4 linked regions of the Homo sapiens genome follow. The protein of the gene in region 2 interacts with the protein of the main gene of each other region in a biochemical or structural test. Each region holds a gene or a part of one and is shown on either strand. Other genes may lie near its edges.

Region 1 (7,116 bases), on a different chromosome or scaffold from region 2:
AAATCCTTCCATCTGTTCAGCTGCATATGCTCGTCCTGCCAAGGCTTCTCGGGTCTCTTCTAACCTAAGCTCCAAGTCCTGGCGCTGGGTCCTCTCCTCCTGCAGCAGCTTCTGGAGCTCACGCAGCATCAAGGCATGGTCACTCTGCTCTTGGGCCCGATCATGCTGCTGCGTGATAAGCCGGGCTTTGGTTTCTGCTATTTGCTCCTGCAGCCCCTTCAATTCTCCCTCCAGGCGGGCCCTCTCCTCCTCCGCCTTGTTACTGGCATCCTCTAAGTCCTGTTTCATCTTTTTCTTGTCAGCCAAGTAAGAAGCCTCCATGCGGGACTTCTCCTGAGTGACTGTAGCCAAAGAACTGGTCAAAGTAGCCAACTGAGTCTTCAGCTGGTGCAGTCTTTTGTCCACCTCCCCACCTGCAAATGGCCCATCCCCACTGCTACTGCTAACGCCACTCTCGGACCAACTGGCCTCTTCGGACTTTGGAGGTGGTGGTCCACGGGCCGGTCTGTCATCTTCTACCCCAAACTCACCCTTGGTGCTGGTGAGACTGGCCGCAGTATCCAAGCTAGTGGCGGTCCCAGTGCTATCCTCGCTGTGAGTGGAGCACCGGTCATCCACAGAGTCAGGAAAGGTGAGGCCTGGAAGCTGGACACCTGCGAGGCCCACATCTGCCTCGTGGGATACCGACAGCACCTTGATGCTGGCCTCTAATGCCTCTTTCTCCTTCAGCAGGCTTTTATAGGCACGGACCACATCCTTGAGCCGTGCCTGGTACTGGAGAAGCTGCTTCTTCTGGGTCTCTATAGTCTCCAGCAAGTCCTTCTTGCTCGGGCCGCCCCCGAAATTCATCCCAAACTTCTCCATGGAGGGTCTGAACGGATTGCCCCACGTCAGCTTTCCAGCAGAACGGGAGAGGGCCGTGAAGACGCAGGCGGGGGCTTAAAGAAACAGCGAGCGGGCTGTCCGGCGGCGGGCCGCACACCTACTCCACCTAGTTATCCCGGACCTAATGCGGAACGGCCGGACGGACTGGCGAAAGCGGCCGCCCGGTCCCAGGCCCGGAGGGCTGGGGCGGATTCTACCCCGGAGGCGGGGCGACACTGGCACCAGAGGTGCGCACTGCCAGGGCTCGTTAGCGCTGGCCCAGAAGCCGCTCCGCACTCTCCGCTCGTCTGGGCCACAGCAGCCCGGGCCGGCCCCCTCGGCCCACGTCGGCCAGAGGGTTACGCTGAGCTCGGTCCCATCACGACATCCTAACTAAAGCTGCCTGCCGACAACGGCGCTTCCGTGTCCGCTGGAAGTGACGTCAGCGAGGCGCCGCAGGCTCCGCCCCCAGTGGGCCCAAGGTAGGCGGGGCCAAGTCGGCCGGTGGGTGGGCGCGGCCTGTTGAGAACGCAGTGGGGCCGCGAGCGGCAAAAAACAGGCTTGGGAAAGGCGAAGCCAGCAAAGTCGAAGACACCAGAGTGGCACCGGTTTTGTGAGAGCGCCCAAGCTTGACCTCGGGCTACGCTCAGCGAGCGACAGAGCAACGTCGCACTGCATTCTTACCAAACACCCAGGTGAACGACGCATCCAACGATTTGGGAGCTCAGGACCCATGGTCCCTAAAAGGCAACAATTAAGACTCCCATTTAGACCACGAAAACTGCAGTCCTCTATAGCACAGTGCTTGGTACCTAGTAGGCATACAGCCTAATAGTACCCTTCCTTAGTTCTGCTGAGTTGATTCCACAAATATTTACGGAGGGCACTCTATAGCCATGTCTATCCTGAGTGCCAGCTATATACCAGGAGCTCACAAGAGTTTTGCTATTTAGTCTTTACAGTAATTCTTGTAAGCACTATACTCATTAGCACTATTTTACAGATATGAAAACATGAGGCAGAAAGGTTATACGTAACATGCCCAAGGTCACACAGCTAGTAAGTTTAGGAGTTCTAATCAGTCTGATTCTCAACGTATCACGTGCTGTGCCAGATGGTAACACCATTAAGAGACACGACCTTGCCCTCAGGGAGCTCGCAATCTAGTGAGGAACCAGACATACAAATATGTCCTGCTATCACACCAGTATGTCTGGGTATATTCAAAGTGGTATGAAAGTTAAGAGGAAAGAGGCCTGTCTAGGTGAGGCATGGAAGGCTCTTGGGAATAATACTTTGGGATTTGAAGGATGAGTCGTGATTGTCCACCTAACCAGAGATCAGGGAAACTAGCATTCCAGGCAGGTGGAAAAAAATGCAAAGACCTGTAGGGTATCGGAGTTTGACTCACCCAGAAAGCATTCAGTAGCTTAGGGTATGTGAAGGAGGTGACAACAGAGGGGCTGGCACAATAGGTAGGGACCCAACTTATGGCATTTAAATTTTATCTTGGGTTATAGTAAGGCCCTAATGGATTTTAATCTGAAAAGTGGGATGTCATCAAGACTTGTATGACATGTTGGAGGGAACAAGGGGCAGGAAACCTGTGAGGAGACTTTCAGTCATGGGGAACAGAAGGTAGTGACAACAGAGATGGAAGCAAAGAGGCTGATAAAAGAGCTAAATGTAGAATTGACCTAACTTGGTGAACACTAGTTCTGTTATTATATTGGAACTCTCTAAAATGTACTCTTCAGCCTCGTAAAAGCCTTCTTAGGGATGCAAGTCTATGACTGAAGAGAAAAGGAAAGTCATTCACTCACTCATACCTGTTTCCCAAAGTCTGTCCTTGTTACAGACTTTGCAGATCAGGATGGGGCAGGCCCTGGAGGTCTGTTCAGACCCCGTTTCTCAGTGGCCCAAATAACATCAAGCTGTATTATACATAACATTCAGTCACATTATCAAATCATTTTAAGATTCACCATAACCCCTTAAGTTAGAACAAGTCTCATTTTATAGATGATGAAATAACGGAAGAGTTATGAGGAGTGCTGAAGCCAAATCCTCAAGAAATGGCAGAATTAAGATTTGAACTAAAGCCTGAAATCACGTGCTGGCAAGTGGTGGGTGCTCAGTAAATATCTGCTGAAAAAGCAAATGAATGAGTGAAGGTTTTTTTATTCCCAGCTCAGTTTACCTCGAGTCCATAAACAATTGATCCTAGAAGCCCACTGGGAATCCAGAGTAGACATAACACCTACCCTCGCTCCATTGAGAATCTATCAGTCCAGTTCAACTGAACAAGCATTTGTTAGGCCTAATAATGCCTGGCAATGAGCCAGTCTCCACCGCAGAAGAATTTCATTCCTATTTTGCTATTCTCCTCTCAGATGTTAAAATGAGGCAGGGAAATGACATGTGAAGCTCTTTGGGTCTACGGAGTCAAGATCTTCACAAAATCCTGAATGGATGTGCAAGAATAAGCCAGGTCCACAAGTCTGTGGCAAAGTGAGGAACTTCGGCAAAGCGGCCAGCGCCTGGACTGAGAGGCGGGGCCCGCAGGGCGATCCAAACGAAGGTGGACTTCTCCAACAGCCCAGGAGTGGGTCTGTGACCCCGCCGCCCAAGGCCGGGAATCTTACACTGGTTCTGCGGATTGGGAATTAGGAAGTAGGCGTTTTGAGGAACCATGGAAGCTAGCTAGCACTCGGGCACCTTCCCCTACCTCCCGCGCACTCTTCACACGACCACCTACTACGCGCAAGTCCCTCGGTGGAAGATGAGGCAGTAAAGGGAGGACCAAGACCCCTAATCGCAGCTTCCACTCCCCAAAGGAGAGTGGTGCACACGTTCAGTGCTACTGGTTCCCAAGGGCTAAAACCGGAGCCCCTAGGGGCCTGGACGCAACAAACCAAAGCCCAGCGGCCGGCCACTGAAAATGGGGGCAGGGGCCGCTGCGGAGCGATGAATCCTTTCCTCAGCCGCGCTCGGGCTGCCGGTTCGGCGGCCACAGGCCTGGCAGGCGCGTTAGAGACCTAGACCCGTTCCCAAGTAAGGGCCGCACGGGACCCAGGCCAGCAGCGGCAACTCGCGGAGCTTCAGCTCCCCTAGGAGCCAGAGCCGGGGGAGGCGGGGCCGAGAGCCGGGGGCGGGGCCCGGACGGGGGCGGGCCCGCGGTGACGTCGGGAGGGCAGCGACGCGCGGAGGCGGCGGCGGAGCCTCCTCCTGCTGCTGCTGCGCCCCATCCCCCCGCGGCCGGCCAGTTCCAGCCCGCACCCCGCGTCGGTGCCCGCGCCCCTCCCCGGGCCCCGCCATGGGCCTCACCGTGTCCGCGCTCTTTTCGCGGATCTTCGGGAAGAAGCAGATGCGGATTCTCATGGGTGAGGCAGATCGAGCGCGCGGCCCGGACCGGGGCGCCGGCCCCGGCGCAGCCCTTCCGCCCCCGCGTCCCTCCAGCCCCGCTCACCTGGGTCTCTGGCCCCGAGTCACCCACCTCATAACGCCCCGGGGCCTCTGCTCTCGGGCGGGTCCCGGTCTGCATCGCCGACCCCGGGGCCTGACACCCGGAGCTGCGGGCCTGGGTGGGGTGAAGCTCCCTCCGCCCCAGCCCGGCTGGTAAGAAGGGAGGATTCCGCCCTTGGAGACGACTTTTAAAACGAGCGCGGCCTACCTCCCGTGCCCCTTGCCTCCCAGTCCTCTCCCGCTCCGCGCCCTCTTTGGAGTTGGCTCACGCCACCCGACTGCCCTCCAGGCCTCAAAGGTAGATAACGACGCGCACCTGGAGGCGCTCCCGCTCTCCGCCCCAGTCACCATCAGCTGTTGTGGCCTCTCCCTTTCCCTGGTCTCTAGGGGGCTCCCTCGCTCCCATCTCCATCCCTGTGCCCCTTTCCGTTGCAGTTGGCTTGGATGCGGCTGGCAAGACCACAATCCTGTACAAACTGAAGTTGGGGGAGATTGTCACCACCATCCCAACCATAGGTGAGCCCGGGGACGAAGCAGGGAGCGGGAGCGCCGCGGCGGGCCCTCGCGGGGTCTGCTCCCAGTTCTGCCACTTTTCTGGAGCTGACCCTGACACCAGATACAGCTATTTGAGAAGTGGGTCAGGGTATCTCTACGTGGATACCGGAGGCAGGGTGGATGTGACCTAGCCCCGCCCTGTTGACCGCCAGTTCTGGGGTTCTGTTCCCCTGGGCCTTGATCATTGCCTTCTGGTTTTGTGTCCCTGCTGAAATCTAAGTAGTTTTAGTGAGTTCCTTTCTTTCAGGAGTTTTCTCATCTTTTTTTTCCAATTATCTGCAGGCTTCAATGTAGAAACAGTGGAATATAAGAACATCTGTTTCACAGTCTGGGACGTGGGAGGCCAGGACAAGATTCGGCCTCTGTGGCGGCACTACTTCCAGAACACTCAGGTGGAGTGTTGGGAGGGGACTTTCTAACCCCACGGGAAAAGGTGTTAGGGCTGGGAGAACAGAATTGTTGGCCTAGGCTGGGCCCCCAGGCCAAGGAAAAAACCCTTCCCCACTTCTACCCCTTCTGTTTGGCTATCCCCTACTCACTCTTCAGAACTCACCTTAGTCTTCCCCAGCTTGGACTTCTCTTTAGAAGCAGGATTCTGGGACCAGGCTGCCTGATTTAGCCCTCATAACATGTCTTTATTTCCTTGCACATCTTTGGATAAACTACTTCCTCTTTGCAGTGGGGTCTCTAGTTTGTGCCATGACTCCTGTAGAGCTTCTATAGAGTTCTGTAAACTTCTGTAGAGTTTACTAGATGAGAAGGATTGACACAATTACAAATGGGAAGAAAACAGAAAGGGCCACACTACGGTATGTCCCAGGCAGAAGTGATTGCTTCTCCTTTCTTCCTTCCTTCCTGCCCAGGGCCTCATCTTTGTGGTGGACAGTAATGACCGGGAGCGGGTCCAAGAATCTGCTGATGAACTCCAGAAGATGGTGAGTACCCAGAGCCCTGGGAACTGAGCCCTCAGCTTGGGGACAGAGTGATCTCTGTAGTGGTATAGAAGTCAGGGAGCCCCCAACAGGCATTGAAGACCAGGAATATAAGTTTTTCTTTGTGGACAGACACATTGTGTATCTCACCCTGTTTTGGATGGGAGTGACTTTTTCACTTTTTCTGTGCATTGTCTTGTCTTTTTTTTTTTTTGAAATGGGAGTTTTGCTGTTGTTGCCCAGGCTGGAGTGCAATGGTGCAATCTCGGCTCACTGCAACCTCCGTCTCCCGGGTTCAAGCAATTCTCCTGCCTCAGCCTCCCAAGTAGCTGGGATTACAGGCGCCCGCTGCCATGCCCAGTTAATTTTTGTATTTTTAGTAGAGACGGGGTTTCACCATGTTGGCCAGGCTGGTCTTGAACCCCCAACCTCAGGTGATCCACCCGTCTTGGTCTCCCAAAGTGCTGGGATTACAGGAGTGAGCCACTGCGCCCGGCCGCATTCTCATGTCTTTACATCTGAGTCTGAGAAGTTGTGGGAGAGATGGGACTTATATGTGGCAAAGAGAAACATTTTACATTCCTGCCTTTTCCATTTGGAAATGTTGTCATTTTGCCTAGGCAAGTACTCAAATTAGGAAAAGGTCTTTCTTTTCTGGACTTATGGGCTCAGGTCACCTCAAGCTCATTTACAACTATGTCTTGTCTTCAACGGCAGACTGCACAATACTTTTTTTTTCCAATCAAGATGCTAGGAGGTAGAAAGGGAATTCCCCAACACAGTAGAGGAGACGCAGCCTGGGTCCCACCTTCTCTTCTCCTCTCTCAGCTGCAGGAGGACGAGCTGCGGGATGCAGTGCTGCTGGTATTTGCCAACAAGCAGGACATGCCCAACGCCATGCCCGTGAGCGAGCTGACTGACAAGCTGGGGCTACAGCACTTACGCAGCCGCACGGTAGGGGTCCTGCCCACCTGGTGCTGAATCCTGCCTCTTGAGGGAAGCTGCAGGCTGGGACAGAGATATAAAGGCATTCCTTTTGTTCCTGGTTGCTGACCTCTTTCTTTCCTTTTCCCCACAGTGGTATGTCCAGGCCACCTGTGCCACCCAAGGCACAGGTCTGTACGATGGTCTGGACTGGCTGTCCCACGAGCTGTCAAAGCGCTAACCAGCCAGGGGCAGGCCCCTGATGCCCGGAAGCTCCTGCGTGCATCCCCGGGATGACCAGACTCCCGGACTCCTCAGGCAGTGCCCTTTCCTCCCACTTTTCCTCCCCCATAGCCACAGGCCTCTGCTCCTGCTC
Region 2 (7,035 bases):
ATCATTATTTCTTTAAAAACAAAGAGCTATTTAAATAAGAACAAAGCTGCTGGTTAATCTCATTAACTATTTCTCTCAAAGCACAGTATTAACTGACAAGTAAAATTTCCAAAATCTAAAAACCAGTTAAAAAAAATAAATGTCAAAACAAGATCAAGGGTAGAATAAATACCCCAAGTGAATTGCTTAGTACTGATTAGGCAAAGCAGGTAAGGACAGCAGACTCTAGAATGGCATACTAAAACTAACGGAAGTGTAAATGGTTCTGAAAAAAGTCTGGGTTAGCAATGCACAACAAAAATGTAATGTGAGTAACACATGTAATTTAAAATTTTCTAGTAGTTACAATGAAATAATAATTAATTTCACCTGTTATCAATATATTTCATTTTACCCAATATATCTAAAATATTAATCATTGTGGCATGTAATCAATGTAACAGAATTATTCATAGGTACTTTACATTTGGAGAGTGGGTAGTGAGTCTTTGAAATCCACTGTGTATTTTACACTTCTATCCCATCTCAATTCAGACTAGCCACATTTCAAGTGCTCACCAGACATGTGTGGCTACTATACTTGACAACACAACTCTAGATGAATTTCTGTAACATCAGTATTCAGAATGTAACAACAGTATCTATTGTAGAGCACTTACCATCCTGTGTTCTGTAAGATGCCTCACTCTGATATTCTCCCCCCATCAACTCAAATAGTTACCCCACCACTGTCATCACTCCAAGATCCCATAACTCCTCATAATAGCTCTATCACAGTGCCTGTCTAAGTATAGTACTATCTTGCTTATTAAACAGTGATTTATCCAGCAGCTTCAACTATTCGGTACTCAGCAAAGAAGAAGCAAAGTGACCTCTAATTTAGTCAAGATCAGAATCACAAAGCTTATACCCTAAAACTAAAGCTCTTTATTTGGAGATATTAGGTGTATAATTCACATCTCCTATTCTGGGAATTAACAATACTTTAAATAACATAATCTATATTGTATATATGACTTGAGAAAGAATACATCAGTCCTTCACACTGATCCTAATTTATTCTTAACTCATACTGAATTTAGCAGTATGAGTTAAGATTTAATTTAATTGGCCTCTTTCAGGGTCAAAAGAGAACCATTCATTCATTCACTGATACACTGATTCATTCAACAATTCTCAAGTGAGCACTTTCCACGTTCCAGGCACTGTGTTAGAAAGTAGAGCTATAAAGATGAACAGATATGTTTATCCTCAAGAAGCTCGCATTCTAGAGGAAGAGAACCTTGTAAACAATTACAACAAAATGAGATAATAAGAACTACCATAAATGAGGGTAAGGTATAATGGAAATCAAGAGGAATAATTATTTAATTAGATATCTGAAAAGGTATCTCAGACAGAATTAAAATACTATAATTAAAATTTGAAGGATGGTAAAAGCTGGCTAGGTGAATTGGGATACAGAAATCAGTAGGATACTCTGATTCTGAAGAGAATAGCATGGACAAAGGCATAGATTTGTAAGATACAATGACACATTTGGGAATTCGGTATGTCAGAATCTGAAGCTGGAACATGACAATGGAAGGAATTAACATTAGACAGGCAGGCAGGATTGAAAGTAAGCAGCCCTACAGGCCATGTTAAAGTGTTTAAATTTAATCCAGTAGGAGAAGTAATGGGAAGCCACTGAAGAATGTTGATCTGACATAAAAATGACATGATTGTATCAGGATAGAAAGATGACCCTGGTGGTAGTGTAAGAGATGGAGGATAGAATAAATGATTAAAAAATCAGGAGCAAGGAAACCTATTAGAAAACGATGGACATATAAGAAATGAGTCACTGAATCAGGACAAAGGCATTGGAGCTAAGGAGACAAATACAAAAGATTTAGGAGGCAAGACTGACTTGGCAATAATAACTAGTTAGTTAAATCCATGGGTTCAGGAGCCAAGCTGAATGACCTCTCTGCCTTTTGGCTCTATTCTTGAGCTGGTTATTTCATCTCTTTGTGCTCCAGTTTTTCAATCTATAAATGTGAACAAAAATCTCCACAAAAACTTCATATAGATAAAACACACAGGATACCTGGTAATAACTGATACCTTTAGAATGCTTATTATTATGGCCAAATTAGAAGAGGGGTATCTAGAAGCAAGCACACTAAAAACAATAGGAAATAAAAGAGAAAAAAGTAGAACTAAATAAATAGTAATACATGGTGATTTAATCTAAGGACAAATATCCTTCAATAGCCTTGGAGCGCATTTCTAAACAACAGTGATTAACTCAAACATATTCAAAGTTATAATACTGACCTTATATTTCTTAATTTTACATTCAGAGTTTGTAGGTGGTACCAAAGTAAAACTTTCCATAATAGCTTCTCTAACAGTGCTCATTACCACCAAGAAGAGAAGCTCACTAAGTTTTCAAAAAGCAACTTCACTTCAAGGTTGCCCGTCTGAACTGAGTCCGTATCAACAAAGTTAGTGACGGTTACTTTATGGCTTATGTAAAACTTCTAGAGAACAGGTGTCCACATCTGAAAAGTCTCGACCACAATTGACTCCCTTGTTGGTGCTGCTGTGGAGAAGTGTTGAATGGGCTGTTACAAGATTTTCTATACATGAAGCACCAGAGGGCTAGGAAATACTTGTACACAATGCATAATAGGGAGGATTAAAAGGCCACTCGGGCATTTGCCTAAATTACCACTTTTTGCACTGATCAAATAGATGACCCTTGCCCTAAAAGTCAGTAAATTCTGGCTTTGACAGAGAAGGAAATTCAGCTACTGAAAAACTTTTAACCTTGGATTCTTTTTGACTATTATCCATCAGTAGGCAAGGTTTTAGTGTTAACAACTAGCCAATTCCACAGCTATTTCATAAACAACAGAAAAGTCAAACCCCAAGCTAAGCTTAATGAATAAGATCATACATTGTAATTTGAATAAAAAAGGATAAATTACGGGATGACATAAAACAAAAACAACATTACTGTTGTTGTTTTTTAAAGTACACACAGAGGCTGTGTAAGGGTTTCCCTTAAGAAACCAGCCACCAAGTACATGTAACTTGATTTATAATTTTGTTCAAAAGTTCCAAATGAACCTATATACTGTATTTTATAATCTGAGATCTTATACCACATTATACTTAGGGCACTAATACTCAGGTATAAGGCCTACTGATAAAATGTGAACCATAGAGAACCAATGGGTTCTTATTTTGCCTTTGAAATTGACTACAAGTGAGCAAACCATTTAACCTCTAGAGTGTTTTCTCCTCTACAAATTAATTATAAACTGTTTAGAAATAAAAGCTGAAGGGAAAGAGATTATTATTAACGAAAATATATTTCAGGATAGGTAGACAATTGCAAAGTAGAGAAACTAGATTCACAAAGTTCTCAACTAGGAGGTGGTGGGGGTATTTTTGGAAGAAAACAATATCCATCTTTAAAACCCATACATGTTAAAACAATCAGAAGGACTAGAAAATATGAATATTTAAAATGATTAGAGATAAAAGAAACAGTACCATTATGAACAAATTAGGACATTATGAACAAGGAACAGAAAAATTTAGAAAAGGATCAAGTAAAACTTATATAAATGAATTTTAAAATTCATATACATAATGAACCCTTTGAAAAATATAATTTCCATGAAAGGATTTACACTGAGACTGAAACACCAATTACTGAGAATGTTATTGAAGAGATTTCCACGGAAGGCTATCTTACTAACAGCTATCCTCACCCTTACCCCTCCATACAACCACAGCTGTTTGACCTTCATTTTCAAGTCAATAAGAATCTCATACTTTAATACTAAATGGAAAATGACAAAATAAACATGGTATGGGACAGAAGCATCTCTTCCTGTGAAAACATCAAAAATTAACTTTTCAAAATGATTTGGGCTTTTACTTAATTGAAGTGTAAGGAAATATATATTTAATAAGCACTCAATTGCAAAAATACTAGATGAGTTTGGAGTTTTTTACAGGTATTTCTCATACCATTAAACTAGGATAAGAGGCCAAAGAGTAAAGTTATCCTTCTAAAAGGTAAAGTTTATCTTCAACTATGCATAAAAAGTATAATGGAAAATAAGAATTTTGAGTGCTCAAAAGAAAAAAACCTCAAAAGGGACTAGAATGATACTTAAATAAAAGGGGTAGGGCATATGGGGAAAAAATTGGGCCTGGAATCAAAAGGTGAAAAAGGCTATTATAGGTCTGCCATATTTTAGACCCTTCAAAATATTTATTAATATATTTATTAATATATATTTTGTTCACCATTTAACAGGATAGTTATGAGACAGGGAAACTGTATATATACATATATATATGAATATGGATATACAAAAACCCATTAAAATAGGATGTATAAAAACACTGCATTATGAACAGTTATCAAAATACAAGTCAAATATTTAATTTATATAAAAGGTAAAATTTGAAAGGGTTTGAAGGCTTGTTATAATCTGGATAAATGGAAGATGACTGATATCCTAACAAACAAAAATCATGGAGGCAAAATGAGCTTATTTATTCAATAGAAACTGAAAGTATGGGTCTGGCTATTGTGGAAGCAGTGGTAATAAGGATGAAAGGTAAATTTAGGCGAGAGTATAGAGGACCATGTAATACCTACCTGGTAGAACATAGGGCCCTGTCCTCTTCTAAAGAAGCCAGAGCTGGGAGATCCTCCATTTCCCTACTCACTAGAAGGCAGGGTTTGGGCACATGACCAAGGCTCAATTAGATAATCTCAAGGCAATGAAGCAAGTATTCATGGGTATTTAGGAAATTATTTATGGTAGCTGTGGCAGCATCAAGTACTAGAGGCACCCAGCATAGGGGTTCTAATTAGATTCTTCTGAGGCTTAACTTGGCTTTGGTTCTTGGTTGTTTCCAGAATCTTGTTCTCTCCCTTTCTGCCAGGTCTGTAGAGGCATCCTATAACTTTCCAGTACATTTTTTTCCTGCCCATATTGGCCAGAGTTGGTTTCTGTTGTTTGTAACCAAAAAATTAACTGAATTATATGCCATCTGTAAAACAGACAACACAGTGAAAATGTATACCTTACCTGGCACTTTCATACTGTTTCACAGTCATTAATGTATCTTCAATGGTTTTATTCACCAAAGTGTTCACACTAGCAATGAAAAAATTAATGGCCCCAAGAAGAGTCTCTCCATTTTTAGCCAGCAGTTTCTGGGTATCGGCATTATAGCCAAATTCTTCCTAAAACAAAGAAGTCACCTTAATTTATTCAGTAATAAATCAGTAAAAGTGACTTAAAAATCTCAAGCACGTCACTAATGGGAAAATATGTGATTTAGATAGAGATCTAGCTGTAGCAGTTTTACTTTTCCTTTCCGTCTTTAAGAATCGAAATCACAGCTAGCCATATAATTACTGAAAAAGTCTAATAAACCAAAATTGTCATCAGCTCAGATACATACCTAAAAGCTAAATAATTTTTTTAAGTTACTTTGTAGTAGAAACAATATTTTCATTTCTACATTTTGTTTCTATTATACTATAAGCACAGCTGTTGGAAAGAAAAATAGAGCAGATTATTAATCAGAGAAACTATAACTTTCACAGCCAAATTAGGTAATAATTGGTTAAAACTTTCAGACATAAAACAAAGTGCATTTTTTTTGTGTTTTGACTGATTCTCCTCAAAGTATAAATATTAACAATACATATTTCTTTGTAAACTTGGTGACTAGCTGACTCCCAAGCTCAGCTCTATTTAGGCACACAACTGAGGAAGGATCACTCAACACCAGCTTTAGTTCATTCTTTTTGAATAAACTGCATCTTGGTGCAGTAAACATTACACATGACTCCTTCAGATATGGCAAGAACTAACTCTAGCTCTGTATATTCAGCAGTGAAAGCTTTCCAGTGCAAGTTTTACTAATTAACAGATTAATCAGGATGCACCTAACCAAATAAAAAACCGATCACATATTCTAAGATGTATCATTTAATTTGATAATTCTCCAGTTTGTTACAAAACACTTTTCAATTTCAGTTGAAACAAATAATGTAATATTAAATTAACTAAAATATTAGAAGATACAAATTTAATGCTATTGCAATAGCTGTAATTACGTTTCTTAGGTGACAAAGTATTCAATAATTCAGAAAATAGCAGGAAAGTAAAATTATCCTTATTATGCTAAAACCATTTTCCATTTAAGAGATGTCCATGTAACTCCACTCTGTACTCAGTCTTCAAAATATTATAGACCTTGATTTGTTGCAAATATTGGCAGATAAAGGACCACATAAAAAGATTACCAATCAATGCATGTAAAAACTAAAATGAAAAGCAGGACAGCTTAAGATTTTTGGCACCAAATTTCCACAAGCTAAGTTACACACTTCACTGAAGTCTACATAAATGTTACTGGAAATAGAATAATACAGAAAACAACATTTTTACAACTTTTAGAAAAAGTTAACAGAACATATTACAACAGTAACCCTTGATATTGATTAAGGAGTAAAAGGCAAAATAAAATATTAACAAACAGGAAGAAAAATATGAAAGATTTATATACATATGATAATTCATAAAAAGTAAAGTTAACAGAAGTCATATCACTTTAAGAGGGCCTTCTTAAAGTGATATGAAATATCTTAAAAGAGAATCTCAGAATTCCATCTTCATTAAGAGTTCAGCAAATCACAATAACAAATTACCTCTTAGAATACTTCTATTATCATTTTCTCCCATCCCTAATAGTTATTTAGAATAATCTTACATGAAGTTCTAGTGACTTCAAACTCAGGTCAGCAAATGCATCTCCAAGTTGCCTTTGGGTATGTACCATCTGGAAAAGCTGGGTCGACAATGTTTGAGCCAGTTTTAAAATATTTTCATATTTTTTCTTGTTATCCCTTAATATATCAATCTGAGCTTCAAGTTCAAGGTCCACAGTTCTTGAGCCACGGCCTAGCTTCTCAGAGATAATCTGTCGAGTACACTAAAAGTG
Region 3 (5,334 bases), on a different chromosome or scaffold from region 2:
GCTGGTCTCGAACTCCTGACCTCAAATGATCCATCTTCCTTGGCCTCCCAAAGTGCTGAGATTGCAGGCATGAGCCACCACGCCCCAATCATGTATATTTTGAGGCTATTAAAAAAAATCTGCATTATTCAAAAGAGGAAACAGCGACCCATTGGAGGTGGCAGAGGTATAGCAGCAGCTAGCATTTATTGTGCACCAACTGAATGCCAAATATTGTCCTGTGGGCTTTGGATGGTTTAATTCACTAACCATCATGGCAGTCCTCTGAGATAGGTGCTCTTCTGCTCTTCTTCCTATAGATGGGGAAACTGAGGCACAGAGGGGGGAAGTCACCTGCCCAGGGTTGCTCAGCTAGTGAGCCAAGGAGCCTGGATTCAAACCAGCATCCAGCTTTCTCTGGAATACCATGGAGGGTGGTGTGGTGGGGATGCTGGGGTGGGTGCGGCTCCATCACCTGGTGGAGCCTCCATCCCTTGCCCTCTGCAGGTGAAGCTGTGTGACTTTGGCTTTGCTCGCATCATCGGCGAGAAGTCGTTCCGCCGCTCAGTGGTGGGCACGCCGGCCTACCTGGCACCCGAGGTGCTGCTCAACCAGGGCTACAACCGCTCGCTGGACATGTGGTCAGTGGGCGTGATCATGTACGTCAGCCTCAGCGGCACCTTCCCTTTCAACGAGGATGAGGACATCAATGACCAGATCCAGAACGCCGCCTTCATGTACCCGGCCAGCCCCTGGAGCCACATCTCAGCTGGAGGTGCCTGGGGCCCGCCTACCCCATGGGCGGGTGGGTTGTGGGGTGGGGCTGGAGAAGTGGGCGGAGCCATGAGAGGGGGGTGGACCCGGAAACAGCCTGGCACCTTGGGGGTGGAGCCCAGTGCTGGGGCGGGCCTACTGGAGGGATGTGGCTACAGGAGGAGCCGTCCTGTAAAAGATGGGCTGGGACTCAGGCCTAGACTAGGTTACTTGGGCTGGAAACCAAGTGCCCCAGAAGCGCTGAGGACACTTGGAACCTTAGGGGGGCTGAGTGAGACTTGGCTTGTCTAGGGTGGGACCAGGAAAGGGACTGGACTTGAGGGTACCAAAGGGCTGCGGTGACCAGGAGAAGGGGCTGAGCCTCCCAAGGCATTGGCTGGGACCTGGAGCCTTTGGGTTTACGACCCCAAAAGGGTCAGCCTTGCAAAAAGGAGGCACCGGTGGGTAGGGTTGAGAAACAAGGGCATGGCTACTTTGCTGTGTACTGGGGCCGTGACTTGGGTGAAGATGGGCCTGAAGCCTGGGGTCGGTTCAGTGACCAAGGGAGCCAGTCTAGGGACGTGGCCGTGGAGGGTTTCCGAAGAGGTCCAGGAACAGGGCTGACCCTGAGTCCTGGAAGCTGGGAGTGGATGGGAGTGGGGAGGAGAAGGGAGCCAGGACTGAGGCAGACATTGCACTCTGCATTCTGGGGCTTTGGTGTTGTGGCTGGGCCTGATGAAGTGGCACCGGGCCTGGTGACTTGAACCTACTTGGGAATGGGTCTGTAACTTTCCCTGCTTGGAAAAGTTAAGTCCTAAGGCCTGGAGCTTTGAGGCTGGGTGTGGGATGGCATGTTTAGAGGGCCAGAGGCAGGGCTAAGATACTGGGGTGTGTCAGAAGCCAGGAGAACAAGGGACCTGTGTTGGAGCCAGGGAGCTCAGGAAGACAGATGGAGTATGGGAAGGGGGGGGATCATTCATTCATTTATTTATAACCATTTATTCAACAAGTACATTCATGTATTTGTAACCATTGATTCAACATGTTGAGTGCCCACGATGTGCCAGGCATTGACTGTTCCAGCTCTGGGAATACTGTGATGACTTGGACAGAAGGGGTCAGGTGCAGGGTAGCTCATTGAGTGGTCCGCGAAGGGTGGAAAGGGGAAGGGTCCTCTCTGGAGGGTGCGGCTTCATGGAGCAGGTGGAGCAGGGTGACACGGAGGTTGCTCGGTGCAGGACAAGACAAGGTCTTGGTGGTGGTCTAAGAGCATGGGCCCTAAGCAGTGAGAATGTGGATTGACTTGAGTCCTGGAGTAATATTGGGGGTGCTCAACACTGGCTTTTTTTTTTTTTTTGAGGTGGGGTCTCGCTCTTTCACCCACGCTGGAGTGCAGTGGCGTGATCTCGGCTCACTGCAACCTCCACCTCTTGGGTTCAAGGGATTCTCCTGCCTCAGCCTCCCGAGTAACTGGGATTACAGGCACACAGCACCATGCCTGGCTCATGTTTTATATTTTTAGTAGAGACAGGGTTTCGCCATGTTAGCCAGGCTGGTCTTGAACTCCTGACCTCAAGTTATTTGCCCGCTTCAGCCTCCCAAAGTGCTGGGATTGCAGGCATAAGCCATCACACCCCGCCAGCATTGTCTTTTGAGACCCACTCAGAAGTCCCTCAGTAAAAGTGCATCGAGTGTGCACAAGTGAATTTAAGTGTGGTTGCACCTGTGTGAGGATCACAGAATCCTGTGGGTGTTGACGGGAGCAGGGTGCCTGTGTGCACCAGGCCTCTCCTCGGATGGGTTCATACAGTGAAGCCTTGTCCTTCATGGCTTCCCATCAAGGAGAGAGCCTCGGATGAGTGCTGGCTTGTCTTGAAGCTTGACATTCGCTAGTCCTCTTTTTCACAATGAACAGGCCTATCTCTGAGCCTTCTGCAGGCAATGGTGACTAACTACCATCTGATGACATTTTGTTTTGTTTTGTTTTGTTTTGAGACGGAGTTTCGCTTTTGTCACCCGGGCTGGAGTGCAGTGGCACGATCTTGGCTCACTGCAACCTCTGCCTCCTGAGTTCAAGCGATTCTGCCTCAGCCTCCTGAGTAGCTGGGACTACAGGCATGCGCTACCATGCCCAGCTAATTTTTTGTATTTTTAGTAGAGACGGGGTTTCCGTGTTGGCCAGGCTTGTCTCGAACTCCTGACCTCGGGTGATCCACCCGCCTCGGCCTCCCAAAGTGTTGGGATTACAGGCATGAGCCACCGCGCCCAGCCTGATGACATAGATGCTCCCTGATTTGCACTGGGGTTAGATAAACCTGATAAACCCATTGCCCATTGTAAATTGAAAATATCATAAGTTGGTCAGGCGCAGTGGCTGAAGCCCATAATCCCAGCACCTTGGGAGGCCAAGGTAGGCAGATTGCTTGAGCCCAGGAGTTCAAGACCAGCCTGGGCAATGTATCTCTACAAAAAATACAAAAATTAGCCGGCCATAGTGACAGGTGCTTGTAGTCCCAGCTGGCTGCTCAGGAGGCTAAGGCAGGAGAATCAATTAAGCTGGGGAGGTGGAGGCTTCAGTGAGCATTGATCACGCCACTGCACTTCAGCTTGGGTAACAATGAGACCCTGTCTCAAAAAAAAAAAAGGAAGTATTGTAGGTTGAAAATCCATTTAGGCCGGGCGCAGTGGCTCATGCCTGTAATCCCAACAATTTGGGAGGCCAAGGCAGGCGGATTGCTTGAGGTCAGGAGTTAGAGACCAGCCTGGCCAATATGGTGAAACCCCATCTCTACTAAAAATACAAAAAGTTAGCAGGACATGGTGACACACACCTGTATTCCTAGCTACTTGGGAGGCTGAGGCAGGAGAATCACATGAACCCGGGAGGCGGAGGTTGCAGTGAGCCAAGATCGTGCCATTGCACTCCAGCCTGGGCGACAGAGCGAGACTCTGTCTCAATAAATAAATAAGTAAAAATAAAAAGAATAGTACAGGTGTAATTGTATGTACCTGTATATGACAAAAAGAAAAAAAAAGGTGACATAGGGGAATGGGGAAATTGAAGTAGAGAACAGGTGAAGAGAGGGAGCTGGTGTGAACATGCATGGGCAGGAGGAGACAAATTTGTAATGTAATGAGGAAATGGGTGGGTGAGTGATTGGCACAGGTGAGGCTTCTGAGCCACCTGAGCTGGTGCAGAAGGAAGGTGTTGATGGCAGGCAGGTAGGCTAGGGGGTGCCTATTGGAGGAGGAGTGACCCTTGACCTGTAGGGCTTGACCTGTTTCTCTTTCCTGTGCAGCCATTGACCTCATCAACAACCTGCTGCAGGTGAAGATGCGCAAACGCTACAGCGTGGACAAATCTCTCAGCCACCCCTGGTTACAGGTGATGCAGGGGGCAGGGCTGGCCCATTGGCTGGATTGGAGGAAGGGGTGGGAGTAGATCGCTTATTGGCTAGGCAGGTTGTGAAGGATGTAGGTTTCCTTGGGTCTGGAATGTGGCTAGGCCTCCCATTGGCTGGGTGCAGGAAGAGGGGGTGGAGCTAAATGTCTACTGGCTGGGTGGGTTGCAGAGGGTATGGCTTCACCTTCATTGGTACCCAGCTCTCAGTGGCAAACCAGAGGATATCCAGGCACTGCTCCAATGCAGACCCCAAGCTAACCCCAGTTCTCTCGGGCCCAGGAGTACCAGACGTGGCTGGACCTCCGAGAGCTGGAGGGGAAGATGGGAGAGCGATACATCACGCATGAGAGTGACGACGCGCGCTGGGAGCAGTTTGCAGCAGAGCATCCGCTGCCTGGGTCTGGGCTGCCCACGGACAGGGATCTCGGTGGGGCCTGTCCACCACAGGACCACGACATGCAGGGGCTGGCGGAGCGCATCAGTGTTCTCTGAGGTCCTGTGCCCTCGTCCAGCTGCTGCCCTCCACAGCGGTTCTTCACAGGATCCCAGCAATGAACTGTTCTAGGGAAAGTGGCTTCCTGCCCAAACTGGATGGGACACGTGGGGAGTGGGGTGGGGGGAGCTATTTCCAAGGCCCCTCCCTGTTTCCCCAGCAATTAAAACGGACTCATCTCTGGCCCCATGGCCTTGATCTCAGCACACGGCACTCTCGAATCATTACTCTGTTGTACCAACATGGAGTTCATCTGGAAGGAGGACTGCCTGAAAAGAGGAAGGATGGAAGGGGTGGGGAGAGAGGACTGATGGGAGAGGAGTCTTGGAAGGAGGACGAGCTGGGGTAGAAAATATACAGGAAGAGTGCCAGGAGAGAAGATGAGAAGGGAGAGGGAGGAGTAATGGAGGAGGAGTTGGAAACTGGGGAGAGATGGAAGGAATGTGACTGGAGGGTAGAGAACTTGGAGAAAAAGTAATCTCATGGTTTGTGATGACTGATTTTTTATTTGGTGGTGGTGTTACTACTAATCACAACTATTAATTCAGGCTGGGTGTGGTGGCTCATGCCTATAATCCCAGCAATTTGGGAGGCCGAGGCAGGCAGATCCCTTAGATCTCAGGAGTTTGAGAGCAGCCTGGCCAACGTGGTGAAACTCCCTTTCTACAAAAAGTTCAAAAATTAGCCAAGTGTGGTGGCTTGCACC
Region 4 (5,300 bases), on a different chromosome or scaffold from region 2:
TCTGCCTTTGGGGCTCCAGGATGCCAGCTTACTTCCCTTTCTTCACTCTGCCTCTCAGGCCCCACATCTTAGCTGAGGCCGACTCTGGTAGCCAAAGTACCAGAGCAGGGCTGAGTCATTTTGTAGGAGGGAGCACCAAAGACTGAGTGGAAAAGTCAGGAAAGTTGGCCCACGTTACCCAGGCAACTGTGAACCTCTCAACCAACTTCCTCATCCTCTTTGACTTCTCTTAGGTTTTCATTTTGGCCTTCAGGCTGCTAGCTTAACGATTATCAGGTCTGAGGAAGCCTTAGCTTTTGTTCCATTGTTGGTGTTATGGCCACCACTGGGGGAAAGCAGAACCAAACTCATTGTGGTGGTGTTTGCGGGGCTAGTGTTTGAGGCCAAGTGGCCATTGCCTGTTTTTTTTCCAAAGGGTTCAATGTGGAGACAGTGGAGTATAAGAACATCAGCTTTACAGTGTGGGATGTGGGTGGCCAGGACAAGATTCGACCCCTCTGGAGACACTACTTCCAGAACACCCAAGGTATGCTCAGGCCTAGCGTGGGTTGGTTGGGTATGAGCAGAGAGTGTGGCTGTCTTTGTTAATGGGTGGCCAACTGTTACCCTGCTGCAGCTCCTGGGGGCAGAAGAAAGGGAGGAAAGGGAGCAAATATTTGGAGGGTGTCAGGCAGGTGTGGTCTTTTGGTTGGGGGGAGGGGGTTACCTGTCATCTTAGTGCAGCCCATGCTCTGCCTTCCTAGGGTTGATATTTGTGGTCGACAGCAATGATCGGGAGCGAGTAAATGAGGCCCGGGAAGAGCTGATGAGAATGCTGGCGGAGGACGAGCTCCGGGATGCTGTACTCCTTGTCTTTGCAAACAAACAGGTGAGACTTCTTCCCACCCCTGAATTTGGGAGACAGCAAACTGGCTGTGGAAATTGTTGGCTCTTGGGCCTATTATATGGTTAACCCTTTTAGTATGCTCTCAATGTTAGAAGCGTGGGAAACTGAGCACTTGGCTTCTTTATGCCCCTCTTCTTGTGCCCCACCCCAAGCTTTATTTAGCAACATTTCAGTCCTCAGGAATTGTCTCAAATCTTTCTTTCATCTTGCCTGTTATCTACTTTAGGAGAATTGGCCTCACTCCTGCTGTCAGACAGACCTGATTCTTTGGTCAGTCTGAATCACGTCTCTTGCTTCCCCACCATCCTCGTATTTGGTTTCCAATTCTTCAGTACAGTGACCTCTAGTGCTTTGGATCTTGAGTTCTAGGTGACTAAATCCAAAGTAGCTCCTTAGGATCTTGTTCTGGGTTTCCTAAAATAAAGGAGGAGGGGAAGGTGCTGGTACACATTTCTTTGGTAGATGGGTGTTCTAGAAGCCTTTAAAAAATCCTGAGGCTTCTTTTTATGTGTCTCCCACGTGCTCCAGGATCTGCCTAATGCTATGAACGCTGCTGAGATCACAGACAAGCTGGGCCTGCATTCCCTTCGTCACCGTAACTGGTACATTCAGGCCACCTGTGCCACCAGCGGGGACGGGCTGTACGAAGGCCTGGACTGGCTGGCCAATCAGCTCAAAAACAAGAAGTGAAAGCCAGACAGCCCTAACAAAGCACCCCACCCACCCCTGACATACCTACTGTCACCCTGCCCCAGTCCTACCCCTTCCTCTCCATGCAAGTGTGGCCAGGGCCCTGGGTATCATGTCCACATGCCCAGCAAGAGCCTTGCCTCCCCTGCCTCCCCTCCTTTTTCCTGTCCACCTATATGACCAATCCCTAATTGCTGTCCTGATGATGAGTCATTCCAATTTACTGGATTTAAAACAAAAAGTTGTTACGGTTTCATGGGGTGGCCCCTCTCTCTCTCACCCTCTGGGTTTCGGGAGGTCGAGTGGGGTATTCTCTTTGTTTGGCAGTGGTTGCTGTCCTCTTGGCATCTGAGTCCTTTCCCTGTCCCCACAAGCCCTTCTACTCCCTGTTTGCCTTTCCTTTGCCACCCTCTCCCTGTTTTACATGGAAATTGCACGGGCCTCTCTGTGTTTGCGTGCATGTGTGCGCCTGTATATACATGTATAGAGAGATATATTTGTGGGGGCCGGGGGGAGCGGGGAGGGGGTGGAGTGAAGCTCAGGGCTTGCAGCCAGGACACTGCCCACTGGAGCCTGTCATCTGCCCCTTCCGTGTTGGTGAGATTAAGGGAAGAAGGTGGGAGGGCATTAGTCAAGCCGGACTGCCCCAGTCTTTGACTGGTTACCCTCCTCTCTGCAGGTAGGTTTTTCTGGATGATAGGACAGATGATGGATTCTTCACCACCATTTTCCTTGTACTCTTCTCTCCACCCTTCTTAGGGCTGGAGGATGGCATTTATCTCTAGATGACTGTTCCCAAGGAGATGCCACTCTGCTCTGCCTTACTGTTGGGAAGGAGAGAGGAACCCACTCACTCTTATCAGCTTAGAGTGTTCAACTGATCCTTCCCCACCATCTTCAGATCTGTTCCTCTGGAGCTTGACTGGGGGGTGGGGATGGCAAGTCCATGGTGTGTGTTAGGGACCCAGGGCATTGGGGGAAGGGAGGCGAAGGCCTGAGGTTTTCCATCTTCATTCTCTTTTGTTATTAGGAGAAGGTGAGGCATGGGCCAATCCCATTCCTGCCTTCCAGTGCCCCACCACCCTTCTGATCTTAGGGGTTGGATGGGTCATCTGTCCTTGGTCAGAATTTTCTCACCCTAGTACTCCTACTGGCCTGACCAGGGCTGACTGGGTATTCTAATGAGGAGCTGGGAAGTGGGGTGACATAGCTGACCTTAGTATCAACCCCCCTCTTCTCCAACTCTTGTTTTCTAGTCCAGGATATGCTAAAGGACGAAGATTTTCTATTGTTTCCAGGCCCTCAGACCATCCTTGCTGTCCCTTCACCCTCCATGCCCCTGCCATCCTCACTCACTTCTCATAAATGGATCTGGGGGTTAGAGTGGAGGAAATAAAATCCTGAAGTGGTTGTCAGTGCTTGTGGGATGCAGTGGTCTTCAGGATTCTCCCCGCATTATTATGTAGTTGTTCAGAAGCTGTTGCTACTGCGTCTCTCTGTCTGCAGGGGGCACTTGTTCCTGAGGTCCTCGCCTGGGTCCTGACTTCTGTAGTTTCTGTGAAGACGTGGCTGTCCTGTGGGCTCCTGTGTGTGCTGGCTGCGCCCTGAGCTCCGAGACAGCTGCCCATAACCTGCTAAGGTCAGGGCCCAGGGCCCCCCACAGCATGGCTGAGGGACCCCTTCCCAGTAGGGCTGTCCCAAGCCCCACTCCATGGGGCCAGGTTTCCTGGCCACTTTTGTTGATAGCAGATGGATCAATATTAGTAACCCCATCCAAGATTGAACTGTGAAAGAGAGGTTCCAGGGGTATCTCCCTCAGTGCCAGTTACTTAGTGATGTGTTACCCAGGATGCAGCAGGTGTGTGCAGGTATCTTGCTCTCTAGGCCTGTGTGTGTGTGTGAGTGTGTGTGTATATGGGTGTGGGTGTGTTTGTGTGTGGTGGTTGTGGGGGGGGTGTTGGAGGTTCTATTTCATTTAAAAATGTATTCATTTCCCTGGCCCCACAGATGCTTCCCTCCATACTTTTTATTTGCTCTGTTTCCTCAGATTTATTTTGTCTTGCCCCATTGCCTCTCCTTCCTTGAACTCTTTCCTTTTCAATCTCAACTCATTCACTGCTGTTGCTCATTTGCCCTTTTCCATGTATTTTTTCCTACTTAGGATTTTCCACTCTATCTTTGTGGTTCATGAGGACTTTGCCTCTTCTCCTGCCTCATTCCCTGACTTTCTCTAGTTAGATGTCAGTCCTAAATAGGTTTTCCTCACTTCAGGCCTCACCCCTCACCTTGTTTTTTTGGGGGCTCCAGGGACCAATCTGGGGCTGGAAATGTTAGGAGGTTGCCTTGGTGCTGCCCCAGATCTGTCCAGCAGGGGGCAGTAAGTGATCTTGGTAGTATCCCTGGCTGCTAAGCCCTTGGCAGGGGTGGTCCTTTCTACATTCCCATTCACTTAACAGCTCTTTTGGGATTGGGTGTTTCATTCCATTTCTGCCCACTCCCTCTCCTCTCCTCTCTGGTAGGTTTAATTTTATGCTTTCCCTGATTCCAGCTTTCTGCTTCCTGAGGACTCCCGCTCCCCCCACCCCAAAGTTTGTCTGTGGTGTTATAGTGGTAACTGCAGTTCCTCCTCTGGAATGTAGACTGTATATGTTTAATAACTCACCTTCTCTATCCTTGCTCAAAATGTGGGATAACGCGATGACTGTGACCCTGGTTGGAAATTAAACTTGTTTTATGCAGCTTTGGAGCCGACCTTCATCTTTGCTGTGCAGCAGCCGTGGGACAGTAGTTTCATGGTGAGGGGAGTCCTGTTTCTGGTCCCTCTCTCCATAGTGCTCCTTCTTTCAGCAAAGGGGTAAAAGGCACACTTGATTGATAGAGAGTAAGGTTATGGAGGAACTTAGTGCCACTCCACACTGGTTATTTCTTCCCATCATACCCCGCGGCGGGGGAGCCCAAATGAATTGGGCATCAGAGTGTGAGGGCTTCGTGACTTTCCTCCTCTAGTTCTAAAGGGTTTAAACCTGAAATCAGCTGTATTTCTCACCTGTTGGTAGACTGTATGGACTTCACTGGCTGAAGGGCCCTGAACTTGGAGGGCCCCATGTGCCTCTACTCTCAGATCTCCTCAGCCTTGCACATGAGGTGCTTCTAGTTTGAACAGAGACCCCCTCACTAGTCTAGTTCTGGACTTTGGCAGTGAATAAACATGAAGGATAAACGTCTGGGCAGTGTAATGACCTTAATCCTTCTTACAACTGATGGCCCTGCATCAGCTCTACTTCAGGCGTGTGGTTTTTCATTGTCAGGATGCCAAGCCTCATCCAGAGATCCCACAAATGTCTTGAGGAATAGACCTTTTCCATAAAGCCTCCATCCTCCCATCGCACTCCCACCACTATTCTGTTCCTCCCCTGCTACCAGTGTCTGGCTCCAGGCAAAGAAAGGGATGGTGCTACCTTTAGGGTGGGTGAGGTCTGGGTGAGCCAGGCAAGCCTTCCCCAATCTTAATATTTTCTTAAGCTTTGAGGACAGAGGTCTTCCCAGCCTGCTTTTGTGGGAAAGGGATAGGATTTAGGCATATAATAAGTTTGAGAGCCCCAAGTACCAGTGTGAAGCATATAATTTATATTCAGTTACTTCCCTGCTGCCTCCCCTGCCAATTTTCCTTTTCAGCACTTCTATTATTAATAGGCCATCACCCTCAAGGACCAGTGCTTCCACC

Evidence for each region.
Region 1: the proteins of ARFIP1 (region 2) and ARF5 form a complex in vitro, tested with the Homo sapiens proteins (one study listed by BioGRID).
Region 3: of the proteins of ARFIP1 (region 2) and PRKD2, one has a biochemical effect on the other in vitro, tested with the Homo sapiens proteins (one study listed by IntAct).
Region 4: the proteins of ARFIP1 (region 2) and ARF3 form a complex in vitro, tested with the Homo sapiens proteins (2 studies listed by BioGRID).

What each region holds. Positions count from the first base shown.
Region 1 is NC_000007.14:127,584,319-127,591,434, forward strand, and holds the start of ARF5 (ADP-ribosylation factor 5), read left to right. Parts: upstream 1-4,092; 5' UTR 4,093-4,180; coding exon 4,181-4,247; intron 4,248-4,764; coding exon 4,765-4,845; intron 4,846-5,166; coding exon 5,167-5,276; intron 5,277-5,437; exon of another isoform or gene 5,438-5,528; intron 5,529-5,550; exon of another isoform or gene 5,551-5,633; intron 5,634-5,747; coding exon 5,748-5,819; intron 5,820-6,644; coding exon 6,645-6,770; intron 6,771-6,894; coding exon 6,895-6,981; 3' UTR 6,982-7,116. Other genes in the region: GCC1 (GRIP and coiled-coil domain-containing protein 1), read right to left, coding at 1-864.
Region 2 is NC_000004.12:152,880,954-152,887,988, reverse strand, and holds part of ARFIP1 (arfaptin-1), read right to left. Parts: intron 7,027-7,035; coding exon 6,805-7,026; intron 5,267-6,804; coding exon 5,109-5,266; intron 1-5,108. UniProt on the Homo sapiens protein: Plays a role in controlling biogenesis of secretory granules at the trans-Golgi network. Mechanistically, binds ARF-GTP at the neck of a growing secretory granule precursor and forms a protective scaffold.
Region 3 is NC_000019.10:46,673,816-46,679,149, reverse strand, and holds the end of PRKD2 (serine/threonine-protein kinase D2), read left to right. Parts: intron 1-486; coding exon 487-754; intron 755-1,693; exon of another isoform or gene 1,694-2,010; intron 2,011-4,031; coding exon 4,032-4,117; intron 4,118-4,414; coding exon 4,415-4,627; 3' UTR 4,628-4,834; downstream 4,835-5,334.
Region 4 is NC_000012.12:48,935,223-48,940,522, reverse strand, and holds the end of ARF3 (ADP-ribosylation factor 3), read left to right. Parts: intron 1-415; coding exon 416-526; intron 527-743; coding exon 744-868; intron 869-1,414; coding exon 1,415-1,576; 3' UTR 1,577-4,784; downstream 4,785-5,300. Other genes in the region: peptidyl-prolyl cis-trans isomerase FKBP11, read left to right, coding at 4,785-4,869.